Regions from separate parts of the Homo sapiens genome. Here region 1 is reported to be linked to region 2. Evidence: microRNA targets listed by miRTarBase, many of them from high-throughput screens and not tested one by one. Region 2 holds a microRNA gene; the other region holds the end of a gene's coding sequence.

Evidence for each region. The annotated mature microRNA hsa-miR-1244 reads AAGUAGUUGGUUUGUAUGAGAUGGUU and lies in region 2 at 1,393-1,418, shown strand. An mRNA with a match to its seed (bases 2 to 7 or 8) in the 3' UTR can be bound and repressed. Matches are read on the target gene's strand: a 7mer-m8 pairs with bases 2 to 8, a 7mer-A1 pairs with bases 2 to 7 and ends in A, and an 8mer does both.
Region 1: the mRNA of NKX2-1 is a reported target of hsa-miR-1244. The part of its 3' UTR that is shown has no 7-base or 8-base seed match.

What each region holds. Positions count from the first base shown.
Region 1 is chr14:36,514,244-36,517,602 of GRCh38, forward strand. NKX2-1 (NK2 homeobox 1) reads right to left here. Exons shown (of 3, transcript NM_001079668.3): 3 at 2,154-3,359. The coding sequence ends at 3,035. The region is part of intron 1 of SFTA3 (surfactant associated 3); the gene reads right to left. Among named protein-coding and RNA genes, the nearest start is that of NKX2-1-AS1, 3.4 kb to the right of the region's middle. RefSeq lists enhancers at 398-1,025, 3,248-3,359.
Region 2 is chr12:12,110,614-12,114,012 of GRCh38, forward strand. MIR1244-4 (microRNA 1244-4) reads left to right here and starts at 1,339; the gene lies at 1,339-1,423. It also overlaps the pseudogene PTMAP9.

The sequences.
Region 1 (3,359 bases), not on the chromosome of region 2:
CAGAAGCCGACGGTGCTGTAGGGGCGGAGGGTGTCCCCAGGTTGCGGAACCCTCTTGCACTGCTCCCAGCGCGCACCTATTTCCCTAATGAAACGCTTCAGATTGCGTTCTAGGTCTCTTCCCGCAGCTGCGACAATTCCCCCAGCCGGGAGCGGGAGCGGATGGAGCCAGCGTAATTGATGGCAAGAAAGAGGCTGAGGTCCTGTTTGTCTCGGTCCGCAAACCCGATTGAGTTCACCTTTCCCCGGGACAAGTAAACAGACTTCAAACTATGCCGACTGTAGACGGCGAGGAGAAGAATGTATTTGATGGAAACTCCATCCAATGCAAAGATGATAAGGCCGAGGGTGCCACAGCCTACTAAAATTGTGACTCCCAAAGGCTTCCTCCCAGCTAGAATGGGGTGCGGGGCAGCCGCCAGAACCACAGCCGGGCACCGCCAGCCAGGTCCCCGCCCGGGCTTGGGCTAGGCTGGGGCAGGTTAAGCGAAGCTCCAATTCCGTGGGATCCGGACCTAGAGCCAAACAGCAGCTGCAGTATCCATGTCCCCTGCCCGGCCGGCCTGAGCTGGGTGCCTTAGCCACCTACACTCCCGGTCCCGGAACCACAGCTGACCATTCCAACGCAAGTGGTCAAATTTGTTTGTTTTCCAAAACGTGAGACCTGTTAAAATCTCCCTTCCCCGCCTTCCAACAAGCACTCTCACTAGACCCAACCATCCTCTTGGGAATCTTCGAGTCCCTCTGGCTGTTGGAAACTGTGTCTCAGCAGTGAGGCCCAGGTTTCTGAGGGAGAAAGCCCGGCCTAGCCCACAGTCTTAAGGCACCACGCCAGAGGAGGCTCCAGGAAGTTAACAAAGAGGACTGCTGGGCCCGGAGCGAGGACTCCGGCCAGTCTGCTTTCCTCACAAGCTCTTGGTGGGGGAGCGGGAGAGAGGGATTGGGAAGAGATGCAGACGAATAACGAAATGAGAGAGGGGAAGAGAGGAAGAAAAAGAAAGTTGAAAACCTGGGCGAGAAGTGAGTACATGCCAAATAAGAATCAATTGCCCATAATCCAATACTTCCAGGCCTAGAGGAAAGTGCTGGGAGGGGCGTCTGCCCGCAGCTGGCTCAGCTGCCTTTCGACCGGAGATTTGGCAAGGGTGACCCGGAAGGGCTACAGCCCATCCAGGGGACTACAATTTTTCTGTGTTCAAAACCATTCCTTCTCCCCTCTCTCTCATCCCTAATGGGTCTCCCAACACAAACACTGAGCGCTGAGGAAACCAGGAAATTAGAGGTTGGAAGAAAGGAATCAAAAATGATTTATTATTTATTTATTTTTTTTGCTTGGCGTGGGAGGTAGTGGCTGGGAGGTGAAGAACTGTAAACAGGAGAAAGATTCATTACTACAAAAATTTAGGATCCCAGAGATAAAACCCAGTACAACAAAGAGTGAAATCTCAGCTCCCAAAGTCCTTCCTGGGATGTCCTCAGGCCTGTCACCCAGTGTTACCCCGTTGGAGGCCAAAGGAGCCAAAAGCAGCAGGGGCTGAAGGCGTCTGCTGCTGGTCCCCTAGAGGGGTCCCTGTTTTAGGACAGAAACAAAACCCCTGAATGACTTCCTTACTTTCGAAAACAGCCTCCCATCGAATTCTGTGAAGGAGCTCAGCCACTGATTAGAAATAAAGGTTTGATGTTCAAATCTACAGAGGTGATCCATTCACTGAAAACCATAACTCACTCAGACTGATTTAAAATGGGTGTCCTCTCTCACTGTTTTAAAACTTTGGCTCAGCTTTGTGAGACCACAGTAGACAGTTCTGAGACTCCTATCAACAGAAGTCTGACTCAGAAAATGAATTATTTGGTCTCTTTCTCTTCCTCTCTCCCTCTCCCTCTTGGTGGAAGTAGTTTGGTATTTCGGTCCTCCACTGCAGTCTCAGGACTGCTCAAGATTTGTTTCCACACAATTTCTGAGGCAGAACAAAACTCCCTCTTCCTGTGGGGCAAGGACTCTGGGCCTGGCCTCCTTACCTCCTTAACCGGTTCAGAATCCTTTGAGCTCAAACCCAAACAATTTGAATCTCATCAGACCAAAGACAAGATCCTCCCAAGCCCCCGCCCCTCAAAGCCATTTAAAGCCAAATCAAAACAAAACAAAAAGGAGGGTTTTAATCAGAAAAAGAATCTTTTTAATTTGTATAATTTATTAGAAGCTTCTTAGGAACTATATTTAAGCCAAATATCTACATAAGTTACAACAGAAAAAGACTGACGCCGCAAATACCAAACTGCCAAATAATATACACAGATTTGTCAATGCCCATAAAAAATGTGAAGGGCTGGGGACTGGGAGTGGTTTTTCTTTTTACAACAAAATGTACAGATTACTAAAAACTAGGCATTTAGTCCAACTTTTGACAGCGTTTTACAGCTACAAGTTCACATTAAACAAACTATTTTCGCGGAGGGCGGTCGCCGCTGAGCCTAGGCGGCCAGAGGGTGCCGGGGAGGGGGCACTTCCTTTGTGTCAGTGACAAGTGGGTTATGTTGAAGACTCTTTCCTCTCCCCAGCTCCCGTCCTCCCTTCAAAAAAAAAAAAAAATCCTGGTATTTACAAGCGAGTCCTCTTTGCTGGCAGAGTGTGCCCAGAGTGAAGTTTGGTCTTTAGAGTCCAGAGCCATGTCAGCACAGAGCCCTCTCCAATCTGTGCCCCGCCCTAGCGTGGAAAACCCATTTGAATCACCAAAAAAAGACACCCCAAAGCTGTTTTATGCCCTTCTCTGCTTAAAGATTCCTTGAGATTGGATGCGCTTGGTTGTTTTTCATTTTCTTTTTTTAAAAAAAAAAACCCACAAATTTTAGGGGGGGAAAAAAAGAAAGACGTCCAGCAGTTTGGCCTTTGTGGTTTTTTTGTTCCTTGGTCTAAACGCGGCCAGGTTGTTAAGAAAAGTCGAAGCGCGTGGAGCAGCGGTGGATGGTGGTCTGTGTGGCGGGCAGGAGGGAAGCGGTGAGGCAGAGCGCTGGGCTAGGGCCGGCCCGGCGTCCTCTCACCAGGTCCGACCGTATAGCAAGGTGGAGCAGGACATGGTGCCGTAGTCCGAGCCCGAGGAGTTCAGGTGGGACAGGCTGGATACCTGGCCCTGCAGCGCCGCGGGGCTGGCGGCGTGGTGCGCCAGGTCCGGAGACTGGCCTGCGCTGCCTGGCTGGTGGCCCGGGTGTGCGCCAAGGCCGGCGCCACCGCTGCCCACGGAGATGGCCGCTGCCGCCGCCTGCGCGGCCTGCGCCTGGTGCTGCGCCTGCTGCTGCGCGTGGCCTTGTAGGCTGGCGGCGCCCGGCGCGGGGGCACCCGCCTGGCACGGTTTGCCGTCTTTC
Region 2 (3,399 bases):
ATTTTTAGTAGAGACGGGGTTTCACCTTGTTAGCCAGGATGGTCTCGATCTCCTGACCTCATGATCCACCCGCCTCGGCCTCCCAAAGTGCTGGGATTACAGGCGTGAGCCACCGCGCCCGGCCCATAATTTAAAATTCTAATGTGTTTAAAATAATTATTAGTTTATGTTTCGGGGAACATGGATAAAGATATAACTTTGTTACAAACAACCAAATGGGGTGGGGATGGAGCTATAAATAAGTAGATTTTTTGGCCAGGCATAGTAGCTCACACCTGTAATCCCAGCACTTTGGGAGGCTGAGGTGGGCAGACTGCTTGAGCCCAGGAGTTCAAGACCAGCCTAGGCAACATGGTAAAACCTCATCTCCCCACTGGCTGCTCTGAAAAGCCATCTTTGCATTGTGCCTCGTCAGCCTCCTTGCTCGCCGCAGCCGCCTCCGCCGCGCGCCTCCTCCGCCGCCGCGGACTCCGGCAGCTTTATCGCCAGAGTCCCTGAACTCTCGCTTTCTTTTTTATCCCCTGCATCGCGTCACCGGCGTGCCCCACCATGTCAGACGCAGCCGTAGACACCAGCTCCGAAATCACCACCGAGGACTTAAAGGAGAAGAAGGAAGTTGTGGAAGAGGCGGAAAATGGAAGAGACGCCCCTGCTAACAGGAATGCTAATGAGGAAAATGGGGAGCCGGAGGCTGACAACGAGGTAGATGAAGAAGAGGAAGAAGGTGGGGAGGAAGAGGAGGAGGAAGAAGGTGATGGTGAGGAAGAGGACGGAGATGAAGATGAGGGAGCTGAGTCAGCTACGGGCAAGCGGGCAGCTGAAGATGATGAGGATGACGATGTCGATACCCAGAAGCAGAAGACCGACGAGGATGACCAGACAGCAAAAAAGGAAAAGTTAAACTAAAAAAAAAAGGCCGCCGTGACCTATTCGCCCTCCACTTCCCGTCTCAGAATCTAAACGTGGTCACCTTCGAGTAGAGGGGCCCGCCCGCCCACCGTGGGCAGTGCCACCCGCAGATGACACGCGCTCTCCACCACCCAACCCAAACCATGAGAATTTGCAACAGGGGAGGGAAAAAGAACCAAAACTTCCAAGGCCCTGCTTTTTTTTTCTTAAAAGTACTTTAAAAAGGAAACTTGTATTTTTTATTTACATTTTATATTTTTGTACATATTGTTAGGGTCGGCCATTTTTAATGATCTCGGATGACCAAACCAGCCTTCGGAGCGTTCTCTGTCCTACTTCTCACTTTACTTGTGGTGTGGCCATGTTCATTATAATCTCAAAGGAGAAAAAAAAACTTGTAAAAAATGCAAAAATGACAACAGAAAAACCATCTTATTCCGAGCATTCCAGTAACTTTTTTGTGTATGTACTTAGCTGTACTATAAGTAGTTGGTTTGTATGAGATGGTTAAAAAGGCCAAAGATAAAAGGTTTCTTTTTTTTCCTTGTCTGTGAAGTTGCTGTTTATTTTTTTTTGGCCTGTTTGATGTATGTGTGAAACAATGTTGTCCAACAATAAACAGGAATTTTATTTTGCTGAGCTGTTCTAAAACAAACAAAAACAAAAAAAACCTCATCTCTAAAAAAACAACAAAAAAATTAGCTGCATGTGGTAGTGTGTGCCTGTAGTCTCAGCTACTCGGGAGGCTGAAGTGGGAGGATCACCTGAGCCTGGAAGGTGGAGGTTGCAGTGAGCCAAGATCGCGTCACTGCACTCCAGCCTGGATGACAGAGCAAGAGCCTGTCTCCACAAAAAAAAAAAAAAAAAGAGAAAGAAAGAAAAGAAAAGAAAAGAAAAAAAGAGGGAGAAAGACAAAACCATCAAATTTATTTAATATGTTTTATATGGTACAGGAGTCTTCATATTGAAATGAAGACCCAAAGAAACAGATAAGTGTTAGTGTGTTTTGTAGTAGGTTTGATGAAGAGTAGACAGTTGTGGAGAAATATGATAGGACATAAAGGGTATGATCTCATAATAACTGGGGGAAACTTAGCAAGACCTAAGTTTAGATTTCTTTGTGACTTTTTTTTTTTTTTTTTTGAGACGGAGTCTTGCTCTGTCACCCAGGCTTGAGTGCAGTGGCGCGATCTCAGCTCACTGCAACCTCCTCCTCCCAGGTTCATGCCATTCTCGTGCCTCAGCCTCCTGAGTAGCTGGGACTACAGGCGCCCTCCACCACGGCTGGCTAATTTTTGTATTTTTAGTAGAGACAGTTTCACCATGTTAGCCAGGCTGGTCTCAAACTCCTGACCTCAGGTGATCCACCCGCCTCAGCCTCCCAAAGTCCTGGGATTACAGGCGTGAGCCACTGCACCCAGCCAACACTTTGTCTTTAGAGATAAGAATGTTCTCTTCCAGGTGTAGAGAGGGCACCTCTCACACGAGAGACCTGCTTAAGGGAAAGATCAGAAAACTTATCCCAGGTTTATAAACTGCTTCAGGTGAGAATGATGAAGGAATCCTGCTTCCATGATTTTTCTCCAATTCCTTCAGCTCAAAATAGTATTCCGAGGTGTCATATTTTAGGTACTACGTTTTGAGTCCCAGTAGAGAAGACACAAATTACCAATGTCTGAAACAAAAACAGACATTAAAAGGATAGAGAACGTATTTTATGTCAGTAAATCAACAACTTAGATGAAATGGACAAATTCCTTGAAAGACACAAGTAACTAAAGCTGACCTAAGAAGAGAAAATATGAATAACCTAGATTAGAGAAACTGAGGTATTAAAATTTTTCCTGTTACATATGTATCTGCAGTTAGGAATCATAGCACTGCATACTTGTGGACCCTAACCCTTTCCTTCCCATGGAATCCCCAAGAAGGAACTTCAATTACTGGACAAAAGACGAGAATCTTCAAGCCTGTTCAATTGAGTAATGGTAGTGGGGGAGCTTTTGGTAGGATGATCAGAAGTCAAAAGACCTCAAGATAATCACTTCTTGTCTGCCATGCAGCTTGTGATGTAAGATGGGCATCGGGCTGTCTCCTTTTTGACAGTTATTTTCTTTGGAAAGTGAAGCAAGGGCTTAGGGGGAAGGAAGCATCGAATAGGTATCTCCATGGAATAGGATACCACATAGGCGTTTGGGCTTCAATGGACTCTACCTTGTAATACAATTCATTGCCTCAAATGCATTATGTATAAGTACCTCTCTAGAACAGGTATTGGAATTGACTAATTAAAGAGTCAAGTGGTAGCCAGTCGTGGTAGCTCACGCCTGTAATCCCAGCACTTTGGGAGGCCGAGGTGGGCGGATCACAAAGTCAGATCGAGACCATCCTGGCCAACATGGCGAAACCCTGTCTCTACTAAAAATACAAACAATTAGCTGGGTGTGGTGGCACATGCCTGTAATCCCAGCTACTCGGGAGGCTGAGGCA